4 linked regions of the Homo sapiens genome follow. The protein of the gene in region 1 interacts with the protein of each later gene in a pairwise test. Each region holds a gene or a part of one and is shown in the gene's direction. Other genes may lie near its edges. The genes, in order: CNIH2, HIBADH, TMPRSS2 and CD53.

Evidence for each region.
Region 2: the proteins of CNIH2 (region 1) and HIBADH interact in binary tests that used the Homo sapiens proteins (3 or more experiments, as listed by UniProt).
Region 3: the proteins of CNIH2 (region 1) and TMPRSS2 interact in binary tests that used the Homo sapiens proteins (3 or more experiments, as listed by UniProt).
Region 4: the proteins of CNIH2 (region 1) and CD53 interact in binary tests that used the Homo sapiens proteins (3 or more experiments, as listed by UniProt).

The regions. Positions count from the first base shown.
Region 1 is NC_000011.10:66,281,125-66,284,706, forward strand, and holds the end of CNIH2 (protein cornichon homolog 2), read left to right. Parts: exon of another isoform or gene 1-381; coding exon of another isoform or gene 382-450; intron 451-1,134; coding exon 1,135-1,203; exon of another isoform or gene 1,204-1,229; intron 1,230-1,608; coding exon 1,609-1,656; intron 1,657-1,910; coding exon 1,911-2,023; intron 2,024-2,123; coding exon 2,124-2,267; intron 2,268-2,445; coding exon 2,446-2,473; 3' UTR 2,474-3,082; downstream 3,083-3,582. Other genes in the region: protein YIF1A, read right to left, coding at 3,513-3,582. UniProt on the Homo sapiens protein: Regulates the trafficking and gating properties of AMPA-selective glutamate receptors (AMPARs).
Region 2 is NC_000007.14:27,540,837-27,547,886, reverse strand, and holds part of HIBADH (3-hydroxyisobutyrate dehydrogenase, mitochondrial isoform 1 precursor), read left to right. Parts: intron 1-4,786; coding exon 4,787-4,920; intron 4,921-7,050.
Region 3 is NC_000021.9:41,470,128-41,477,177, reverse strand, and holds part of TMPRSS2 (transmembrane protease serine 2), read left to right. Parts: intron 1-557; coding exon 558-601; intron 602-3,681; coding exon 3,682-3,853; intron 3,854-5,196; coding exon 5,197-5,372; intron 5,373-6,434; coding exon 6,435-6,530; intron 6,531-7,050. UniProt on the Homo sapiens protein: Plasma membrane-anchored serine protease that cleaves at arginine residues. Participates in proteolytic cascades of relevance for the normal physiologic function of the prostate.
Region 4 is NC_000001.11:110,876,148-110,883,147, forward strand, and holds part of CD53 (leukocyte surface antigen CD53), read left to right. Parts: exon of another isoform or gene 1-1,487; coding exon of another isoform or gene 1,488-1,538; intron 1,539-7,000. UniProt on the Homo sapiens protein: Structural component of specialized membrane microdomains known as tetraspanin-enriched microdomains (TERMs), which act as platforms for receptor clustering and signaling.

The DNA.
Region 1 (3,582 bases):
CCATGCACGCCTTCCGTCTCCACTACAACTCTCCTCACTCAGACCACCATCAGCCCTGCCCCTAACCCTCCAAACCGTCCCCTTGCTGGTCTGGCCTGAGTATGACACAGTGGTTAGGAATTTTAACTCTGGAGTCACACTGGGTTAGAATCCACTAACCAGCCGTGTGGCCCTGGACAAGTCACTTAACCTGCCTCAGCTTCCTCATCTGCAAAACAGACATGAAAATAAAACTAGTACCTAAGTCATAAGGTTGTTAAGAATTAAATGAGTGAATCCACATACCGGCCAGGAGAAGCACCACTTAGATCTCAGCTGTGACTGTCAGTGAGCTCGGATTTCCTGCCCCACCAATCCTGAGACATGGACCAATCCTAAGACATGGACCTGACCACCCCACTCTGCTGCTGTGTACTCTTCAATGCCTCCCCCCAAAATTTTTGTGTTAAAGTAAGTCCAAACTCCTGCTCTGGCCTCACAGGGCGCCCATGTCTGGCTCTGCTGAATTCTCCAGCTCCTCTTCCACCACTCTCTCTTTTCTTCCTGCTCGCTGCGCTGTCACGCCAGCCCCATGAAACCCGCAGCCTCCTGAATGTCTCCTGACCTTTCACCCCTCTGCCATTGCACCTTCTACTGCTTGGACTGCATTTCCCCCATTTGCTCACCAACACCTACTCCGAGTCCAGCCTGAACTCCCTCACCCCCCACACAGGGTTAAGCGCCCACTCCAGGTCCTCCCTGTACCCCAAACCCTGATCACCTGGAAGGCAGAGTGATCATCCCTCTGGGCCTGGGTTCCTCCTGGGCAGGGGCTGCATCCCAGGCCTCTGGAGCCCCAGTGCTCAGCACAGGGCCTGAGACTTGGCAGGGCAGACACGAAGCCATGTCTTGGGATGTTTTGGAAGGGGGTGTAGTGGACATGGGCCTGAACTGGGCATCCAGACGCTAGGGTTCCCTTCTGGACTGTTGTAATGACCTTGGACCAGGCCCTGCTCCTCCCTGGACCTCGGTTTCTCCACCTTTGCAACAAGCTCCACCTGGCTGGTCCTCTTCAGTAAACTATCCCACAGAAGGACTTGGGGGAAGGCCATAAGCTGCTGCCCCAACCCTGACGGGCACACGCCCCTCCCCCAGATCATAGCCTTTGATGAGCTGCGGACCGACTTCAAGAACCCCATCGACCAGGGGAACCCTGCGCGGGCAGTAAGTGATACATGTGCTGTGCCGAGGTGTGTCCGTCCGTCTGTCTTTCCATCTGTCGTGGGCTGGGGGTGGGAGACGGGAAGACGGGGGTGGGGTGGGGGGCCTACGGCCATGCCCCCTTCCTCTCTGTCTCCGCCCCCAGCAAACACCTGGCGCGGGCTCAGGGCTGAGTTCCTCTTGGCGGGGCGGTGGTTGCCAGGCTCTGGGCCGTTGCCATGGAGACGCGGGTGAAGGCCCTTCCATGGTGACGGTCGCCATGGGGACGGCGCGGCTGCTTCCCGGCCGTGCCGACAGTGCCGCAGAGATCGCTCTGGCGCCCCCTGGCGGCCACATGTGGAGCGGTGGGAGCTGCTCCAGTACCTGCTTCTCCGCCACCCCATCGCGGCCTTTTCCTTCCCCCAACAGCGCGAGCGTTTAAAAAACATCGAACGCATCTGCTGCCTCCTGAGGAAGGTCAGTGTCAGGGCTGGGGGCAGGAGGCTCCTAGCCCAGCGCTGCCCCCACTGTCTGTGGCCCAGAACCAGGCCTTCCCCTGCTTTGGGCCTGTTTGATCCACTCTACTTGGGAGGGAGTGGGAAGCCAGAGGCCTTTTAATCCCCAGAGGTCACGGTGGGTGGGCACCTCCCAAACCCCAGCTCCTCTCTGTCCCCTTGAAGGCTGGTCTGTCATAGCACCAGGCCGCTGACCTCTCACCCTCACTCCCCCAGCTGGTGGTCCCAGAATACTCCATCCACGGCCTCTTCTGTCTGATGTTTCTGTGTGCAGCAGAGTGGGTGACCCTGGGCCTCAACATCCCCCTCCTCTTCTACCACCTCTGGAGGTGAGGGTAGCAGCTGCCTTGGGGAGGCTGAGATGGGGAACAGGGGCAGGATGGGGGTGGGAGTCCTGATGGCAGACACTCAGGCCCCTGTCTGCCCCAGGTACTTCCACCGTCCTGCAGATGGCTCTGAGGTCATGTATGATGCGGTCTCCATCATGAATGCTGACATTCTCAACTACTGCCAGAAGGAGTCCTGGTGCAAACTTGCCTTCTACCTGCTCTCCTTCTTCTATTACCTGTACAGGTGAGGCCTTGCCCACAGCAGTCAGAACTCAGGGAAGGGATGTCCCAGCATCACGCTTCCAATCCCAAGTTCCTGCCTTTTGCCCCTGAGGACTGAGGGCAGCCCAGGGTGTGACCAGGTGGGCATCTGGGTGGCTGTGTGTGTGCAGGGCTAGGCTCACTGGCTCATCTTCCTACAGTATGGTTTATACGTTGGTGAGTTTCTAAGGGGGAAGCCGGCCAGGGAGCGAGCCCAGAACGGACCGGACGCCTGTGCACCCCCAGCCCTGCCCCTTGGCCGCAGAGGCCTCAGCCCTGGGGAGGGAGGGGGCACTGGTGCCCCCAGCCTCTCCAACCCCCAAACTGCTGCTGCGGGGAACCCCCCCCACCCCGCCTTCAGAGCCCTCCCCCTTGGACTAGAGCGGCTGGGCAGAGCTCTAAACAGGGGCAGGGGCTCCTCTGCCAGCCTGTGGGCATGGCAGTCATTCCTGGAAGGGGCAGGACCTCCGGCCTTGTCCATTTCGGGGGAAACTTGGGCCCTGCCAAGGGGCAGAGCTTGACCCTGGAAATTCTGGGCCATCCCCCTCCACCCCCACCCTGAGGCTCCCCCTGCAGGTGGGGGGGTACCCGCACCGGGAATGAGCAGGCTCAGCAGGGGGGCAGCCCCACCCCTAGTCTGCCCTCCCCTCTCCCCCAGGCTCTTTCTCCAGCCCTGTCTCCATCTGCCCCAACCTCAGCCCACCTTGTCTCTTGGACCTATTTTCTATGTCGCCTGGAGGAGTCCGGCACCCCCTCCCCGGCCATTTGTGACAAAATATGAATAAACTACTGCAAATATGTGGGCCCCGGTTCTGCTCCTGGAAAGCTTGAAGAGGAGATGGGGGCCGATTACAGGGACTGTATAGGGGGCAGCCCTAAGCTGAATCCCCAGCCTGGCTTGTCTCACCCCACTAGCCCACAGACCCTGCTGGAGCCCCCCAGAGGGATCAGACGCCTTCCAGGTCCCCTCAGCAGCCTCCTTCCATCTTCTCTTTCCCAGCTGAGGCTGCTGAAACCCTTACAAGGCAGTATCAAGGTCACCAAAGTCATGAAGCCCTCCCTGGGTCCACCTTCTTCCTAGACGGCCCCAAGCCCGATCCCCTGGGCAATGCAGAGGCGCAGAGGTATCTGTAGCTCCCCATCAGGCCCCAGGAACAAGGGTCAGACAAAGTCAAGGAAATCAAATCTTCAATGAATGAAAAACTCAGTGCCATCTGGGGCCAGGGGGTCACCGGACCAGGTGGAAAGTCAGCCAGTATATGATGAGGGGCTGGAAGGCTGCAGCTCCCAGAGTCAGG
Region 2 (7,050 bases), on another chromosome or scaffold:
TACATGAGAAAATTTTCTTTTTTCTCATTTGGAACAATTTTTTTGTGCAAAGTAAAACATGCCATAGTTTTGTGTATTAATATAATAAATGTGGGAAAGTGGATGATTATGAACTTGAAAACCCAAAATTATCATAGAATTTCAAAAGCTTAAAAGGAATTCAGTGATGATTTTCTCTAACCACTTCACATCCTAGATGAAGAAACAGGGTGAGCAGCATTTAATGACTTGCTGGAATGATAGAAATGCTTTGTCTGTAATCCTTGGCATCTTGTGCATATCTTGTGAGAGCAGTTATCACATGGTATTACAGTCGTTGTCTGTTTCCTTGAGACTTTCCTTCTCTCTTGCCTCCTGAGAATCTCTTATGTACTAGAGCTAGTGGATGTGAGTGAATGAGCCAACAATCACTGCCCTCATGGAGGTAGTGTTATTCTAGGGGATACAGACCAGAAACAAATGAAACTGTTAAAGAGGTGATAAATGCTATGAATAAAATTGAAGCAGGAAAAGGAGAGAGTGATGAGATGCTATTTTAGATTGTTAGGTTGAGTGGTCAGGGAAGGCCTCTCTGAAGAGGTGAATTTTGAACAGAGGCCTGAATGAACTAAACTATACCAGTCATGAGTATCTGGGGGAAGAACATTTCAGGCAAAAGGAATAGCAAGTTCAAGGCTTTGAGATGGGAACATACTTCACCTGTTTCAAGAACAGCAAGGAGTGCAAGGTGGCTGGAAAGCAGCAAGTGATGGGAAGAATGATATGAAATGAAATAGGAGAGGTAGCCCAGAGCCACATCATGTAGGGCTTTGTAGGACTTGGGATTTTATACTGAGAGGGCTAGGAAGTCTTTGGAGGGTTGGGAATAGGGAACAAACATGAGCTGGGTGAACTAGATTTATATTTTAAGAGGATTCCTCTAGCTGCTATATGGAGAACAGACTACAGAGACAAGAGGAGAAGAGAAATAAAGTAGGAGACTATTGCAGTAATCCAGGCAGGAGTTACCTGTAGCTCAGACCGTGGTAGTAGGGATGGACAGTGAGAGAAGTGGCTGAATCACCAGTGTGTACCTTCTTAGGAGCAGGGACATTTGTGATTCATCCTTCACCCAAGGGCTTACCACAGGGCCTGATTCTTAGCAGGTGCCCAGTTAATTGTGTTGAATAGATAAAACAAATGCAGATTTCTTGTCTTTCCCATTCACTATGCTGCCAGAGAAAGATTTTGCAAGAAGTCTTCACAGTGATGTCATCTTAACATAGTGGCTGTAGACCACTAAAGTTCTTCTTGACCTGTGCCAGCCTACTTCTGTTATTTATAGGTGCGGCCCAAACCCGCTAATACTTAAAAAGAGGGGCTAAAATTATCCCAGAGAAGACAATGGCTTAAGTAACTAAATAGGAAAATGCCCACTTCACAAATTCAAGTTAAAAAGTAGTAAGCCCTTACATTTAAATAGCATTTTTAGCTGGTCACGGTGCTCATACCTGTAATCCCAGCACTTTGGGAGACCAAGGCAGGAGAATTGCTTGAGCCCAGGAGTTTGAGACCAACCTGGGCAATAAAGTGAAACCCCATCTCTACCAAAAACAACAACAACAACAACAAAAACAAATAGCCAGGCACAGTGGCACATGCCTGTAGTCCGAGCTACTCGAAAGGCTGAGGTGGGAGGATTGCTTGAGCCTGGGAAGTTGAGGCTGCAGTGAGCTATGATCATCACACTCCAGCCAGGGTGACAGAGTAAGACCCTGTCTCAAAAAATAAATAAATAAATAGCATTTTTATTTTACAGCATACATTCACATATTCACAGCCAATCTATGAAGAAGTTATTAATACTTTTCCTGTTTTATACACTGAGACTCAGAAGTTAAATAATTTGTCACACAATTTGCCAGCAAGTGGCACATCCCCAAAACAAAATATAACATTTCCAGATCTTTTACCCTTTCTACCATGCTATTTATCAGCCAACCATTTGTTGAGTATATCATGCACTATAATAGATAATGGGGATGCTGGCAAGCCATGACCTCAGTGCTGACTTTTTAGGAAGTTTATAATGGAGGAATCAGACAAGAAAATCCAAGATTTTAATAAAGTATGATAAATGCTGTAATAGAATCAAGCACAGGGTGGATTTTGGTTTTGTATATATAATTAATAAAATATATGTAAAATAAGTATTTCTTTCAGTATTCTAGCAACTACCCGAGTATGCATTGTGTGTTTTTCTATTTTAGAAAATGGACTAGAATCAAAATGGCGTGTCATTGTAATAAATTTCTTCATTTTTGATAGACATAAACATCTATACAATGTCTCCTGAAATCCATAAGCTGTCTTACACAGTTTTAGAGTCGCAGCTTTCTAGGTATTCTTTCCTAAGTTCAAAATGGTTACATTTATTTCAGGATAATTTCAGTCTTTTTGTTTTGTTTTTGAGACAGGGTCTTGCTCTGTTGTCCAGGCTGGAGTGCAGTGGTGCGATCTCAGCTCACTGCAGCCTCCACCTTCTGGGTTCAAGCAATCCTCCATCTCAGCCTCCTGAGTAGCTGGGACTACAGGCACATGCCACCATGCCCAGCTAATTTTTGTATTTTTTGTAAAGACGGTTTCGCCGTGTTGCCCAGGCTGGTCTCAAACTTCTGGGCTCAAGCAGTCCACCAGCCTCAACCTCCCAAAGTGCTGGGATTACAGATGTGAGCCACTATGCCTAGCTAATTTAGGTCTTTGGCTGTGGGACTAGGCTTGATAGTGTTATATGATTAAAGGAATATGTATGAGAAGATAAGATTTGGTTCCAAGGAATGTCAAAACTTTAGAATTACCCATTTTAGTTAGATGCTTACTTTGGGATGTAGGTTATGATGAAGTCGGAAATAATTATGATACCACATCAATATGAGGAAAGAGTCGAACTACCACAGACCTCTGAATTAAAAGATAAATTATTCTTTCTTTTGTGGTCTTCTCTTGCTTAAGCAACTTATTTCTGCTTTTTAAAATATGTGTTTGAATAAGTGAGAAAGTACACCTGTCAAAAGACTAACCAGCTGAGAACCATTGTCAGCATTAATTTTTTTTAAATAAATGACTCCGAAGCTATTTAGCAGTCTGTAATCTAAATACAAAGCAAAACTATTGATCTATGATGGATAGTGCTGGATTTGCTTGTAAGCTTTGACTTAAATCGTCTACTTAATTTCTCTAGGTGAGATCAACAGGATTAGGAGGAATGGTGGTTATATGGTTTAAATAAAAATGTCTAGAAATTGAGCGAAATAATTATAAAACATTAATGGTTTACCATCTTGATAAAGTAAACTAGAAACTAACAAAACAGCAGTCACTTTAATGTTATAAGAATGTTTGAATGACATAGATTGGCTAATTGAAAGCATTTTTTATAAATTGGGTTTTTGTATATAATCCAAAGTGAAGATATTGTAAAATGGTGTAATTTAACCATATGTGTGAGCATCTCAGGTTTTCATAACATGTGGGCACTCACTCTTCCAAGATTGTTTGGCTAGCATAATGCTGACTTTTTTGGCTTTTAATAATTGCTTATGAATAGTATAAACTGTAAAATAGAAAGCTATTTGATTTGACAATAGCAAAATATTCACAATTTGAATGAAATAGGTATCTCTTCACTTGGGCTTTTAAAAAATATATAAATACTGTATTTCATTGAACACATTAAATCCAAAAGCAGGCCATTACCTGCAGCTGTCTAATGGCCAGATTTGATACATACTACAGACAATTACAGTTTCTTTGTTCTTACTGTACTGTAAAATAAGTTCTTCCACATACTTGCCTGGGAAGTTTTGAAAAATAAAGCCTAACTTGAAAATTATGAATCAAGATTTCTTTCAATATTAAAAACAGTAATAGCGCTCTTGGTTTTATTTTATAGTTAATAAAAATTTAGATGAATGAAGCTTTTCCTCTCCCTTTTAGGACAAGTCTAGATTATATTTTCTGTGCTAAATTGAAGGTTCTTTCTCCAATCATTAGAATGAATGAACATGCATTAAGCCTCTGTTAAAAGCTACTAAGGAGTAGTGAAGTCAGTGTTAAAGTTTATTTCTTCTTCTTGCTCATATCACTAAAAATAAATTGCCCAAAAGATGTATAGCAGGAAGGAAAAGAAAAATCAAATAATATTGAAAAGTACATATGAGAATAATCAGTCAAAATAAGCAAAGTTTTCCTTGCCTTAAAAAAAGAATCTACCATCTGAAATGCCTACTTGTTTAAGGAACAAAGAGCCAGGTCTCCCTCTTTGTAGATCTCACTTATAGATAGTATTTGGAGAGTGGGTGAGTGAGCAAGAACCCCGAATCCAAACGTGGGCAGCAGACCTCTCTCTGGCTGCTCCTTTGCTGATCAGGGCCCAGGTAAAACTTTTTTTTTGTATACTTTCTATAACTTAGTAGGTTTCTTAGGAGAATAATAGATGCATGGGAATAATAACATTTACATTTTAAGTTCCCTTATCTGTTAGGCCATGATTGTGCCAAAATGATTAAGGTGAGTTGAGATTGAGAGTACAACTGAATCTGTATGTCTCTCTTGGTTTGTGATTAATCTGGGTGATACTTGATTGCTGAATATTTCTGTAGAGATTTAGAGTATCTTATACATGCCTGGCATAAATACAGATTGGAGGCAGGATGTTTTTAGTTGGTTTCTCTAATTTTATTACCTGCCTAAACATTTTAAGAAATATATTCTTTTGCTTCTATCCCTTTACCCCCAAATGATTCAGGTGTAGGAGCTGCACGATCTGGGAACCTCACGTTTATGGTGGGAGGAGTTGAAGATGAATTTGCTGCTGCCCAAGAGTTGCTGGGGTGCATGGGCTCCAACGTGGTGTACTGTGGAGCTGTTGGGACTGGGCAGGTAAGATTTTTACATTAATGACCTTGACTTGATGATGTAAAATTGACTAATGTTCCTTTCTCTTTCCTGACCATATTTTTATTCTTCTTTCTTCAACCTATGGATTCTTTGCTCAGATTTTAAAACATTTATTTGGAATAAATTAGTTTTGCATCATTCCTGGTGGGCTTAAGCAGACATCAGCCAATTTACTTATTTAAAAAACTTCCATTATTGGCCAGACGTGATGGCTCATGCCTGTAATCCCAACACTTTGGGAGGCTGAGACAGGAGGATCACTCAAGCCCAGGAGTTTGACACCAGCCAGGGCAACATAGTAAGACCCCATCTCTACAAAGAACAAAAAAATTAGTCGAGTGTGGTGACACACACTTATAGTCACAGCTACTTAGGAGGCTGAGGTGGGGGGATCACCTGAGCCCAGGGGTGGGGGATTGAGGCTGCAGTGAGCCATGATAGAGCCACTGCAGTCAGCCTGGGTGATAGAGCAAGAACCTATCTCAAAAAAAAAAAAAAAAAAAAAAAAAACGGGAAAAAAAATTCATTATTAGGATCTTGACATGTCTGTCATCCCAGCAACTAGTGAAATCATCCTTAAAACTGCTCTTATTCGAAGTGCTTGTTTCTGAGTTGCTATTTTCCTCCATCTAATTTTGTAATTACAGTTGACCCTTGAACAACACAGATTTGAACTCCATGGGCCCACTTATACATCTATTTTTTTTCCATAGATATATTGAAAATTTTTTTGAAGATTTGTGACAGTTTGAAAAAACAGATGAACCACATGGCCTAGAAATATCAAAAACATTAAGAAAAAGTTAGATATGTCGTGAACGCATAAAATATATGTAGATAGATACTAGTTTATAAATATGCACAAATCTGTTATAAAGAGTTAAAATTTATCAAAGTTTACAAATATTTATAGACCATACATGGCACCATTTACAGTTGAGAGAAATGTAAAGAAATGTAAAGATGCATTAAATCATAATGGCATAAAATTAACTCTAGTAATACTGTACTACTGTAATAATTTTGTGGCCACCTGTTGCTATTGCAGTGAACTCAAGTGTTACAAGTATTGAGCATAAAATGTCATGTGACACTAATCATCTTTGTGTGAGTGGTTCATCTCTTTAGTAAATTGTGTATCATAGTAAAAATTGATCTCTTGGAATTCTCTTGTATTTTTTTATCATGTTTAGTGCAATACCATAAACCTTGAATGACACCATGGGACCCATACAAAGTGCCACTAGTGATGCTGGAAGTGCTCCTAAGAAGCTGAGAAAAGTCATGACATTACAAGAAAAAGTTGAATTGCCTGATACATACCATGGATTGAGGTCTGCGGCTGCGTTTGCCCTCCATTTCAAGATAAACAAATCCAATGTAAGGACCATTGTAAACAAAGAAAAGAATAGTCATGAACCCATCACTGCAGCTACTCCAGCAGGCTTGCACTTTTTGCAGAACATCTTTTTATCTCACATTGAAAATGCAGCTTTTATGTAGATGCAGGATTGCTGTAGAAAGGCATACTTACATCTAATATGATTCAAGAAAAATATGACAACTTAAAGCAAAAAGAAAGTGAAGGATCTAAAGCTGGAGAATTTAATGCCAGCAAAGGATGGTTTGATAATTTTAGGAAGAGGTTTGCTTAAAAAATGTCAAGAAATAGGCGAAGTAGCTTCTGCCAACCAAGAGACAGCAGACAGTTCCCAGGCGCCATTAAGAAAAAATCATTGAAGAGAAAGTATATCTGCCTGAATGAGTTTTTAATGCAGACAGAAGTGCCCTATTACGGAGAAAAAAAAAAAAAAAAGGATGCTCGAAGGACATTTATTAGGAAGAGAAGCAAGCAGCACCAGGATTTAAGGCAGGAAAGGATAGGCTAACTCTACTGTTTTGTACAAATGCAGTTGGGTTGAAAATCAGGACTGCCCTTATCTATAAAGTTGCTAACTTCTGAGGCTTTAAGTGAAAAGATAAATACCAGCTGCCTGTCTTTTGGTTGTACAGCAAGAAGGCCTGGACGATGAGAACCCTGTTTCTGGATTGTTTCCATCAATGGCTTTGTCTCTGGAGTCAGGCAATATCTTGCCAGTAAGGGACTGACTT
Region 3 (7,050 bases), on another chromosome or scaffold:
GCGTCTTCCCTTCTCAGCATAGCCTGGGAAATTCACTGCAGGACAAAATGCATCAGTTACTTCCTCTTCATCCATAACCTGGGATGTTTGACTCCCAAATGAGTAACTCTTACGTTTCTTCTAATCCTAGGGAAACTATTGGTTATATTGCTTTCAACACTACAAATTTAAAGCAGTTATAGGAGCCCAGAGGTTTCCAAATGGCTTCCTTAAAAATTAGAAGATGATTTTAAATTCCAAGAGGAAAAACAAAACTAGCATTATTGTATACTTACCCTCACAACCGTCCTAGGAGCTGGTACAATTTTAAGAGAGGTTAAGTAACTTGCCCAAGGTCACACTGTGGGGATGTGAGCCGCGTACCTTGGCTCAGTGTCTGGTCTTTGCCACTGTCCCTATATGGATTTACTTACCTTATTGGAGTTGTAACTAGCAGACCCTTCTATGTCTCAGAAGACAGGAGAGGGAACATCGGAAGAAATGACTGATTTCTAAGCATGTGAGAGGCAGGTGACTCCGCACTATCGTGACCAGAATTTCCCCTGTTCTTTTTGCAGTGATGCCTGTTCTTCAAAAGCAGTGGTTTCTTTACGCTGTATAGGTAAGTTCATCTGGAGTCCCCCTTTTGATACTTCTAACTAGGAAAAGCTCTCTACTTTCAGAACAGTACTCCCTGTGTCTCTGGGGGCGTGGGAGGGAAGAAGGTGGGGTCACGGGTTGGAATGTGCCCAGCGGCGTCTCGCTCTTTCCAAGGAGCTCCTGGTTTAGATTTCCATGGCCTGTAGACACCTTCAGCCTTGGGTCCAAGGGACACCCCCTGAGATCAGGCACGCTCAAGAAGCTGACAAAGCCCTACACTTTATGCCACCCATGAGCTGGAGGCCCGGCAGGTCTCTTTCTCCAGAAAGCAAAGGGGGGTGGCGTTAGTGAGCCCTGGCAGCCACCTAACGTGGACTTGGAGCATCTGCGGGGCTGTGGTCCAGCACCACCGTGTGGCCACCAGGTGCTCATCAGCCAGTGGGACCCGGGAGGAGGGACAAGACCAGAGAACAACAGTGCTCTTGCCTCTTCTCTCCTGAATTTTGGACGGTGGCTTAGACTTGGGTGTCCCCATCTCTGTGTTTAGAGTGCTTACAGTTTCCAAACTGTTTGCAAATGTGGAAGCCACCGTCCCTCTCCTCTGGGATGGCCCAGTGCTGTCGTGGGGCCGTGGTCCTGAGCTCAGCTTTTCATTTGAAGAGGTGGAAGGAGCTGACACCGTCCCATCCCGGCAGGGCTGGCTCAGGTCTTCTTTAGGTCCTGAGTGGGGGTCCAGCACAGCCCCAAGGGTGCGTGGCACCCGCCCTGCCCTCTGCCCATGCACTCATCTCCTGGTGGAGAAGACACTCACACACAGGAAGCAGGGAAGGCAGCAGACCTCACTCACCCCTCACCCCCTCACTCACCCCCTACTCACCCCCTCAACCTCTCATTCACCACCCACCCCCTCGCCCCCTCACTCACCCCCTCACTCCCTCAACCCTCACTCACCTCCTCACTCCCTCAACCCTCACTCACCTCCTCACCTCCTCACTCTCCCCCTCATCCCTCCCTCACCCCACCCCGTCACCTCCTCACTCACCTCCTCACCCCCTCACTCACCCTTCACCCCCTCACTCACCACCTCACCTCCTCACTCACCCCCTACTCAACCCCTCATTCACCCCTCACCCCCTCACTCACCCCTGCACCCCCTCACTCACCCCTTCATCCACTCACCCACCTGCTCACCTCCTCACTCAACCCCTCACCCCCTCACTAATCCCTCACTCCCTCACCCCCTCACGCCCTCACTCACACCTTCACCTCCTCACTCACCCCCTCACCCCCTCAACCCCTTACTTACCCCCTCACTCATCCCTTCACCCCTCACTCACCCCCTCTCTCACCCATTCACCCCCTCACTCATGCCTTCACCCCCTCACTCACCTCCTCACTCACACCTTCACCCCTCAGTCACCCCCTCACTCACCCCTTCACCCCCTCAATCATGCCTTCACTCCCTCACTCACCCCTTCACCCTCTGAATTACTCCCTCATCCCCTCACTCACCCCCTCACTCACCCCTTCACCCCCTCACCCACCACCTCACCCACCCCTCACCCACCCCCTCACCTCCTTACCCCTCACCCCCCTCACTCACCCCTCACCCCCTCACTCACCACCTCACCCACCCCTCACCCACCCCCTCACTCACTCCCTCATCCCCTCACTCACCCCCTCACCCCCTCACTCACCCCCTCACCCACCCCTCACCCACCCCCTCACCCCCTCACTCACCCCTTCACCCCCTCACTCACCCCCTCACTCACCCCTTCACCCCCTCACTCACCACCTCACCCACCCCTCACCCACCCCCTCACTCACTCCCTCACCCCCTCACTCACCCCCTCACCCCCTCACTCACCCCCTCATCTCCTCACTCACCCCCTCACCTCCTCACTCACCCGCTCACCTCCTCACTCACCCCCTCGCCCCCTCACTCACCCCTCACCCCCTCACCCCCTCACTCACCCCTCACCCCCTCGCCCCCTCACTCACCCCCTCGCCCCCTCACTCACCCCTCACCCCCTCACCCCCTCACTCATCCCCTCACCTCCTCACTCACCCCCTCACCTCCTCACTCACCCCCTCACCTCCTCACTCACCCCCTCACCTCCTCACCCACCCCCTCACTCACTCCCTCACCCCCTCACCCCCTCACTCACCCCCTCACCTCCTCACTCACCCCCTCACCTCCTCACCCACCCCCTCACTCACTCCCTCACCCCCTCACCCCCTCACTCACCCCCTCACCTCCTCACTCACCCCCTCACCTCCTCACTCACCCCCTCACCTCCTCACTCATGCCCTCACCCCCTCACTCACCCTTTCACCTCCTTGCTCATCCCCTCACTTACCCCCTCACTTCGTCAATCACCCCCCCACCTCGTCAATCACCCCCTCACCTTTTCACTCACCCCCTCACTCACCCCCTTACTTCCTCACTTACCTCCTCACCCCCCACTCACCCCCTCACCCCCCACTCACCCCCTCACCCCACACTCACCCCCTCACCCCCCACTCACCCCCTCACCCCTCTCACCTCCTCACTCACCCCCTCACCTCCTCACTTATCCCCTCACCCCCTCAATTACCCCCTCACCCCCTCAATTACTCCCTCATCCTTTCAATTACCCACTCACCCCCTCACCTCCTCACTCCTCACTCACTCCCTCACTCACCCCTTCACCTTCTCACTCACCTCCTCGTCTCCTCACCCCCTCACTCACTTCCAGCCCTGCCCCTCCCATCTTCCTTTTCTTTGTGTGAGAATCTGGGGTCCCTGAGTGGTGTCAGTCCCTCCAAGACTCAAGGAGTCCCCAGGGCCTTGTTATCCAGAACACCCCCACCTGGGTCCCGGGAGACCCCATGGGATCACAGGAGTGTTCAGGGAAGTGGTGCTTCCTGGGTCTGGGTGGGCTGGAGGGGCATCCTCCCTTCCCCAAGAGGAGACCCCCAGGAGCCCCCTAAGTCCATCCCCAGCAGTGGTGCCCCTGCCCTGTCCTTGCAGCCTGGGAGACCCTTGGGAGGGGCGGGCGCTGGGTGGCTGGGCGGCTTCTGCTGGTCTCACCCCACTGGCCTCCTGTTTGTCATCCTCAGCCTGCGGGGTCAACTTGAACTCAAGCCGCCAGAGCAGGATTGTGGGCGGCGAGAGCGCGCTCCCGGGGGCCTGGCCCTGGCAGGTCAGCCTGCACGTCCAGAACGTCCACGTGTGCGGAGGCTCCATCATCACCCCCGAGTGGATCGTGACAGCCGCCCACTGCGTGGAAAAGTATGCCAGGGGCGGCGCGGGCCGGGTGGGGGCTCAGGGCTGGCCTACAGCCACCCTGTGACCTTGAGCAGGTCTCAACCCTTGCAGCCCCGGCATCCTTGTGTTTAAATGGGGAGAGTATTGCACCTGCTTCCTAGGGCTGTGAGACATCAAGTGCGCTCATGCCAGGCAGTGCATGGCTGTATGCACTGAGTGTCCCCTGCACGCAGGGCACAGGGTGCAGGTGGAACATTCTCCACGATGTCGCCGTGACCAGCGTTCCTTCCAGCCACTGTCCTCTGAGCTCTGTCCTGCCCTTGAGCAAAGCCCCTGCCCCCTGAGGTATCCTGTCTCCGGGACGCTAGTCCCAGGAGAGGGCACACTCAGACAGGCTTCAGGCTGCCCTGCTGGAAGGTCCCTGGGGTTAAGCGTTCTTGGCCACAGCATTGCTCATGCAGAGGGTTAGGTAGGGGTGAGGCTAGCCGTGACAGTATTAGCATTTATGGACGCTACCACCCCCTCCCCTTTTCCTTAAACACATAGTGCTTTTGGTCACATGCTGCTTTGGAGGAGGCCTCACTTGGCGGATGTATTTTTCTGCCTTAGAGAGAGGCTGAACTGGGTTTGACTGTTGGCCCAGCCCTCTCTTGCTGCGTGCCCTTAGACGATTCACTCAACGTCTCTGATCCATGGCATGTACAACTATAAGATGGGCATGCCCTTCTCCTCTCGGGCTGTTATGAAGGTCAAGGAAGCAAGGGCTGTTACCCAAGGGTGCTCCCTTCTCTCCCCCTCTTCACACCCCCAGGTGCTCTGGGCCCTCTAGGAACTGGGTTTCTCTCAAGGGCTGTTACCCAAGGGTGCTCCCTTCTCTCCCCCTCTTCACACCACTGGGTGCTCTGGGCCCACTAGGAGCTGGGATTCTCTTAAGAGGGAAACTCTTGGATAAAGGAAATGGTTTGATTGATATCGGACAAGTCTGTTCATTAGTATCCATTTATTAAGCACCTACCATGTGCCAGGAAATGCTTTGGCGTACAAAGGAAAATAAGGGCCAGTCCTGCTAGAAATGGCCTTGAAACCCCAGGGAGGGATGTCGGCCCATTGTGGGTGCTGCAGATTCCTTGAAGGTGATGCAAGAGCCAGAAAGAAGGATGATGTGGGGGGCTGAGGCAGGGAGTCGGGGTTGGGGGAGTGTGGGGGAGAAGGGGAGACCGAGCACCTCTTCCACTATCTCCCTGTGTGGTTTTTGGTGAACCATCCTGCCTCTGGGTGTCTTGCCTCCAGCTTCTGACGTTGGAAGTTCATCCACTGAGAGCTCTGTGTTTATGGCTCTGAGATACTGAGTCCTTCTTCTCTCCCAGACCTCTTAACAATCCATGGCATTGGACGGCATTTGCGGGGATTTTGAGACAATCTTTCATGTTCTATGGAGCCGGATACCAAGTAGAAAAAGTGATTTCTCATCCAAATTATGACTCCAAGACCAAGAACAATGACATTGCGCTGATGAAGCTGCAGAAGCCTCTGACTTTCAACGGTACGTGTGGCTCAGGCTTGGCAAGCAGGTTGGCAGAATCTTAAAGAGATGTTGATTGGAAATGACACTTGTGCTATGCCAAATGGAAGGGAGGCATTTGCGTTGAGCGAGGGTAGCGTGCAGCGGGTGGCCAATGGGAGAGGCTCACAGAGGCTAAGAGCACCTGCCGCATTTTGGGGGAGGCAGCAGCCACCACATCTGTTCTGTACTGTACTGAGTGGTGGTGATTCAAGCCAGGCATGGAAAAGGCTAGAACAGGGCTTTCCCACTGCAGCACCCTTGACATCTGGGTGGTTCTCTGTTGTAGGGCTCTCTTGTGCCTTGTAGGATGTTTAACAGCGTCCCCAGCCTCTACCCACTGGAGGCCAGTAGCTACCAAGCTGTGACAACCAGTGTTGCCTGCTGACATTGCCAAACATCCGCTTTGAGGCAAAGTCACTTCCAGTTGAGAACTACTGGCCTAAAATGTGTAAAGATCCTTGATTTTTAAAGATACATTCTAAAACCAAGTTGCTTAATTCAGGACAAACATGCTTTCTCTTAGCCTCTTATTCGGTCCCACTCTGGTCCATCCAAGGGTCTGGAATGTTCTAGCCCCATGTGGATACAGAAGAAGCAAAACCTCAGCCCTCCCTACAGCATGTCTGTATTCACATTGGGAAATGGTTCACATATAGAAGAGCGAATGCCTGAGCAATGGCGTGGTGCCTCTGGGGCGAAAGCTGACTCCATTGACTCCATCGGCTTTTTGGCTGTTGCCTCCTGTGTGTCTTTCCCGTCTTGATCACCTGGAGATATGTAATTTTGGAAGCAGAGCTAGCAAATAATTCCTCTTATAAGCAGAGCTAGCAAATAATTCTACTTATAAGTAGCATAACGTCTTGCCTGCCAGAAGGAGAGGTCTGGCAGGGGGAGAAAGTGAGAATGTGGGACTTGTTGGGATGCAGGGTCCTCTGGGCAGGGTGGCCAGGGTGCCAGGCCCAGCAGCCTGCATGTGGGAAGGCCAGGTGGAGACATAGGTGATACCCGCCTGGCTCACTGTGTTTTCTCTTCTTGAAACAGACCTAGTGAAACCAGTGTGTCTGCCCAACCCAGGCATGATGCTGCAGCCAGAACAGCTCTGCTGGATTTCCGGGTGGGGGGCCACCGAGGAGAAAGGTGAGGCTGCTCCTGGGCACACAGGACTGCAGGGCCCACAGATGGAGCATTGGGTTCGGAAGTGGGAGGTCCAGGTTTTAATCCCAGTTCTACTACTCAATGACTGGATGACTTTGGTTGATTCCCCCAGTCCTTGTGCCTCAGTTTCTCCATCTGCTAAGTGGGAGAAATCCTGCCCAGCCTACCTAATACACTGTGTTCTTATCGTGATCACACAGAGCAGCATGTGGAATGGCTTTTGAAGTATCTGGGCCATACGAGTTTAGAGGTGCAGGATCTCCTGTGTTGCACTCATTGTGAGTTTAGAGCTGCCCTGGAGATCCCACCAAGGCCTGCGTGGCTGAGTGACAGGGGGCTTGGTGAGGACGGGCATCCTGGACCCATGGTGGCCACATCTAAGCCTGTCCTCTGCCCTGATAACCACAGAGAGAGGCTCTCTCCACCCACTTCCTTTGCAATCTGCATTTCTCTCTGACAGTCTTTCAAATGAAGGGAGCCTGGCTGCTTCATTTTTATGGAG
Region 4 (7,000 bases), on another chromosome or scaffold:
AATGAGAGCCAATAAATAGGAGCTGTCGCAACTGTCCAATCTGCTTACTTTTCAGGTAAAATGACTTGTCCAAAAATCATAAAATTACTTAATAGTTATTCAGAATGTCTTCTGATTCTCTATGGCATGCTCTTTCTTCTACATTATACTATAGTCCCTTTTCTAAGAGATTTTTTATTAAGTAAGCATCATTAGACTGTATTCTTCATTTACATAAATTCCTAGTGCATTTTAACATAAGCAAACATAAAAATACCACTTAATTGTAAATGTAATTGATCTTAAGCTACTATGCTAGCAAACTAAATACTTAACATATATTTTATTTTCCAAACCTTTTTGTTTGGCCTTTTCTATTTCAGGAGAACTAGATTGAGGAATAGGGGTAAGAAATGATTTTAATGCCTCATATCTTTTAAAACTTGTTAAAGTTTACTTGTTAAAGTAAATTTGAACTTATGGCTTACCTTATATCAGGAGCAAATAAAGGCATTCAAGAATTATTCCATAGTTTAGTCTTCTTAAAATAACTATTGTAGAATCTCAGTATTTATAACATAGAAGACAAATTGTAATGATTTTGAGATGAGAATCCCTTAGATCATTTATTTATTTCCCATCCCTTTAAAAAAATGACAAAATTCAGACTGATAAAAAGGTTGAAAAAATATTATGAAAAATTTCTAAATCCTTTTCACCCAGATTTCCAAAATATTAACATTTTACTTCATTTGTTTATTCTCTGGCTCTCTCATTTGACAGTAATTAGTAATTTGATTGATGCCCTTTCCCCTAAGAATGTTAGTGTATATTTCTACAAACAAATGCATTCTCTTATATAACTACTTTACAATGATCAAAACCAGGAAATTAACACTTATGCAATATAATTAACAATCTATGTACTTTATTCAGATTCCACCAATTACCTCTTTAATATTCTTTATAGCAAAAGGAAATTTCTAGTCACGCATTGCCTTCAACTGTCACTTTTGTCTCCTTTAGTCTGGAACACTTCCTGAATTTTTCTTGCCATTGATATTCTTGAAGAGTAAGGTCAGTTCTTTTTTAGAATGTTTCTCCATTTGGGTTTATCTGATGTTTCCTCATGATTAGATTCAGGTTATTTAAATTTTTGATAGGAATACCAACAAAGTGGCTTTTCTTATCCCACAAAGAGTCTTGCTTAATCTGAGCATAGCCAGCCTGCAGACACCATGGACAGGCCTCTAGCCGAGGGACCCCGTATGTAAAGTTCTGCATATTTCTACCTAGGAGGACGGAGAACCTCTGGTCTCTTGACTCTGTAACAGTGCTAACTGTTTTAGGTAACTGTTCCTGATTTACGAAGTAAGCTTATTAGAAGAGTCCCTGTCCCACCTCAGCTGTTATTAGTATCTTGCTAAGCTCCCACATGGGAGGAAGTGAGCTTCCAAGATCATCTGGATTTGTCTTTCTTCACTTTTTCTCTCCTCTTTTCTTCTTCCTTATTTCTCTCTTCTTCTATAAATCGCCAAATCCTCTCCCCTAACAGCGACCTAGAAGAAACAAAATTTTTATCAGATTACAATTTTAGGAAGGAATAAGATAACAGATATTCCTTGATTAGTTGATGGAGAGATGAATGGACACGAATACATGAGAGTTGATGCTTTGGCTTCGTTTTATTTTACCCCTACTTCTTCCTCTACAACTGCTTATTACTCTTCAAAAGGACGTACAGCGATAACTTTGATTGCACCTCAGCCACTGCTCACAGGAGTTCAAACGAGCTGATGAAAAATGGAAGGTCTTCTCCTGGATGCTCAACACATTGCACCAAATGAGTTGGGAAGTAATAGGCACAAAACCAGAGCCTGGGACGGTGGAAAGAGCATGGGCTTTGGAGGCTGAAAGAACTTGGCCTTCACCCTGCCTTTGATGATTCTTAGCTGGGTGACCTTGTGCCAGTCCTCGGCTTCTCTATTTGCAGAATGGGGCTAATGACACCTAAGTTGTCAGGCCGATTTGAGGATTATAAATAAGACATTTATGAGGAACTTAGTTATTTTGTGGGATTCAGTGAACTATCTATTATGTATCTCAGTTTGTTTGAGCAAGGCCTACATTTGGGAGCCCTCACTGGGGCAGATTTTCGCTCCTATTTAGAAAAACTTTTTCTTAATCACAGCCTCAATTGTCTTTGCTAAGGAACAAAGACTGCCACAGGCTCTGTGTAGGAAGGGATAGGGAGCCGTAATTACCTTGCGAATGCTCTTGTATGTAAATTGACAATCTGTATATAGAGAAATGTATATGGAGAAGTGTCTGGAAAGACGTTTGCCAAAATGCTAATGATGGTTATCTCTGGGAGGTGGGATTTCAGAAGATTTTATGCTTTCTTCTTTATACTTTTCTTTATTTTTTAAATGTAGAATTTTTTTTTAAAGAAAGCATGCTTACATTTGCTTTCTATTGCTGGATTTTTCAACTTTTTCTAATAGGTTTGAATGGAGTAAGAAATGTGTTCTAATAATATATATTCTCAATCTTAGCTTACAAAGGTGTTTCTCTACCAAACACTTCCATTCACTGAAAGAAAACAATTTATGCATCTTAAAGAAACTGTGCTTACATTTGCCTTTTATTGCTGGGATTTTCCAACATGTCTTAACAGAGTTCAGTGGAGAAAGAAATGTGTTCTAATAACGTATTCTCAATCTTAGCATACAAAGGTGTTTTTCTATTAAACGCTTTTCTTCACTGAAAGGAAGTCTTACAGAAACTGTACTTGCATTTATTTATTTATCTTTTATTACTGAAATTTAACATTTTCAATTTGTTCTAATAGGTACAAATGGAAAAAAAACATGTGCTTTTCTTTATTGTTTGATTTCTTTTTGTTTTTTTATTTTTTTTACAAATGGCACACGAAACCTCTTTTTAAAACGTATGAAACAAGCAAGGGATTATTCTTGCCCCGTGTATGTTTTATTCCTAAAAATCTGTTAGAAGCTAAGGGTTACCCTTAGGAATGGACTGGTAGGTAAGGTCTGAACTTGATCTTTCAGTGAGTTTTCACTGAATAAGGCAGATACACAGGGACTGAGCCATCCTGGAAATAGTATCTCATTTAGCCCTCAGAACAACCTCTGAGGTAAGTATTAATAACCCTATTTCAAAGATATAGTGAAAGACAGGTTAAGCAAGTTGCCCAAGGTCACACTTCTGATAAGTAGCACTAACAGAATTCAAAACTAGACCTGTCTGATTCCAAAGCTAGTGTTTATCAAACTGTGTTCCACAGAATACTATGTTATTTGACCTGTTAATAAGTGATCTGCAACATAAAACTAGGTTTGTAGTTATATAAACATATTTTTGTCTTAGAGACTCACAGTGCACATTAGCATATAACAGGTTTTTCTCTTACACTGTTTTTTTTTCTTTATCTTGGCTTTTGTTTGAGGAGCACTTACTAATATCTCATAAGCGTAATGGTCTATGTAGCACCAAAGCTGTCTTATGTGGCTCCAGCCTAGCTTGTAATATTGGATCAGATAAGGCTGAAGATGAAGAACTGATAGAGGTTCTTTTTTTTTTAACTTAAAAAAATTTTAAAATAGAGACAGGGTCTCTCTATGTTGTTCAGGCTGGTCTTAAACTCCTAGGCTCAAGGGCTTCTCCCACCTCAGCTTCCCAAATGGCTGGGATTACAGGTGTGAGCCACCATGGCGAGCCTGATCGAGGTTCTTGAAGCCTCTATCCAACCTTAACCACTTCTAAGCTTGATTAAATTCAAGAGTAGATTACATGGTGCTGTTAGTACAGGTCAAAAAAAAGACAGGGATGGAATTAGAAATCCGCAGGTTCTACCAGCTCAAGCCCATTGGAGGAAACTAAAGAGCAAAGTTGATCCCTAACCTCCATGTTGAGTTGTGGAAGGTAGCCACAGTTAAGTGCAGTTTGGTCACGCAGGTTTCCTGGAAACTGATATTGGTGGCTTTTTGCATAGAACCATGAGTCATGCATCTAAGAGTCATAGACTTTGACTGTGGGAGGGGTGTCGGTTCCTCTAGATGGTAGTTGGAAGGGGTGGGAGGCTTAATCACTGCCCAGTAACAGTGAAAAGGGGAAGGGGAAACGGAGCAGCATTCTCTCTGGGGCCCTTATGGCATGTGGCAAAAGTAGTGACAATCTTCACCAGGTGAGAAGATTTTCTTACTCAATTTAGTATGAGTCTGGAGAGGTAGAAAGTGGGAGAGGAAGGAAGAAGAGGTTCTTCTTCCTGTCTGTGAAGGAAAGAATCAGTAGGAATGTCCCTAAGTTTGTGGGCACCTAGCCAGCTGGTGTTCTGTGGACAATCAGGTTACACGGGCCTGAACTAATTGTCACAGGATACCAGGATGTTGGGGCTGATGTGACTCTAGGAGGCATCTGGCTCAATTCCTTTCTGTTACTGATGGGTGAGTTAGTTATTTTCCTATGTCCAAAACATCAGTTTATTAGCAGACTGAAAATTCAAGCCCAAGGCTCCTGACTCTGCAGTGTCATGTTCATTCCACTACATCAGATAATTCTGAGGTAATGAGGCTTTGAGAATTCAAAGATGAATAGCATAGATCCTACCCTCAAGGAGCTCACATTCTAGTGAGGGAATAGTCACTTATAAAACAAAATGGTTAGTACAATGGCAGAGGTACACAGGTATTACAGATACTCCTTAGGGCAAGTGAGGGTTGGGTGTGAAGACTTAGACACAAACAGAGAGGACTTCCTGGAAAAGTGACACATCATTAGGATGATGAGTAACTAACCAGAATAAGAGGCCAGAAAGAAAAGAGAAAATTTCAGCAAAGAAACACATTACCAAAGTAAGGAAGGAAGCATTAAGACAAGGATTCAATATTGCTTTGCTAAATTTTAAAGTATAATACAGGGGGTGTTGCCATGAGTGTGGAGTGATGGACAGGAGCAAATTAGGAGGGGCCTTTGACGTAAGTGTACATGCATAAATCCATCACCACAGTCAAAACACTGAGCGTATGCATCACTCACCACAGATTGTTGTGGCCTTCTGTAATCCCTTTCTCTCACCCTTCCCTGCTCCCTCTCTACTCACCTCCTGCCCTCCCCCACCTTCATCCTCAGACAGTCATTGATCTGCTTTCTGTTGCTATAGATTAGTTTTCATTTTCTAAAATGTTATATAACTGGAATCATACAGAATGTACTCTTTTTTATTTAACCTCTTTCACTCACCATGATTATTTTTACATTCACCTGTGCTGTAGAGGGTAACAACAGTTCATTCTTTTTAATTGCTAAGTAGTTTCCATTGTAAAATTATACCACTATTTATTTATACATTCACTTGTTTATGGACATTTGGGTTGCTTCCAGTTTGGGCTATTACAAATAATACTACAAAACTATGAACCTTCCTGTACTAGTCCTAGTATGGACATATGCTTTCATTTCTCTTGGGTAAATACCTAGGAGTAGAATGGCTGGATCATATGATAAGTATATGTTTAACTTTGTACAAAACGAGCAAACTGCTTTTGAACATGGTTATACCATTTTACATTCCCACCAACAGTGTATAAGAGTTCCAGTTTCACTACATCCTCACCAACACTTGGTGTGGTCAGGTTTTGAAAACATTTTAGCCATTCTAGGAGATGTGGAGTGGTATCTTACCATGGTTTTAATTTGCATTTCCTTAATGAGTAATGAAGTAGAGAATTTTTTTCATGTCCTTATTTGCCATCCATATAGTATCTTCTTTGGTGAATTGTCTGTTCTGATCTTTTGCCCATTTTAAAAATTGGATTGTTTATTTTCTTACCATTGAGCTTCAAGAGTTGTTTTTATACTCTGGATACATGCCTTTTATCTCCTGTGTGATTTGGAAATATTTTGTCCCTTCTGTGCCTTGTCTTTTCATTCTCTTAACAGTGTCTTTTGAAGAGCAGAAGTTTTTAATTTTGAAGAAGTCCAATTTATCAACTTATTGTGCTTTTGGTGTCTTATCTGAGAACTCTTTGCATAACCAAGGTTGCAAATATTTCCTTCTGGAGAATTATAGTTTTGGATTTTACCTTTAGATCTATGATTCATCACTAGTTACGATTTCGTATGGAGAGAGGTATAAATGCAAGTTCATTTTTGCATATTAATAGACAATTGTTCCAGCACCATTTGTTGAAAAAAGTATTCTTCATTCTGTAATATATTAATTTTGTATTTTTTTTGAAAATCAGTTGTCCATATGCATATGGACTCTATTCTGTTCTCTTGATATATTTATTTAACACCAGTGCTATCCTGTCTTTATTGTTGTAGTTTTATAGAAAGCAATATAATTAGGTAGTGTTTGTACTCCAATTTTGTTCTTTATCAAACTCATTTTTACTATTCTAAGTCTTTTGCATTCCCAAATGAATTTTAGAATTAATTTCTTGAAGCCTACAAAAAATTCTGCTGTAATATTGATGGGGATTACAATCTATAGATAAATTTGGAAGAATTGACATCTTAAAAATATTGAATTCCTGGTAGATGGACGTGGTATATCTCTCCATTATTTGCATCTTTTCAATTTCTTTCAGCAATGTTTGTTTTTAAGTTTTCAGTGTACAATTCTTTCACAACTTTTGTCAGATTTATGCCTAAGTATTTCATATATGATGCTATTGTAAATGATACTTTTAAAAATACTTGATTTCTAATGGTTACTAGTGCATAGAATGCTATTATTTTTTGTGGATTGAATCTTGTTTCTAGCAACCTTGCTACACTTACTTGTTAGTTCTAGTAGTATTTTTGTAGATTTATTTAGATTTTCTACAAAGACATTCATGATATCTGTGAACAAAGCCAGTTTTACTTTTTTTTCTTTCCAGTTTGGATGCCATTCTTTTCATATTTCATTTGCACTGCCTAGAAACTCCAGTACAATGCCAAATAGAGTAGTTAAGAGTAAACAGACTTATTTTCCTCCTTATATAAGGGTAAG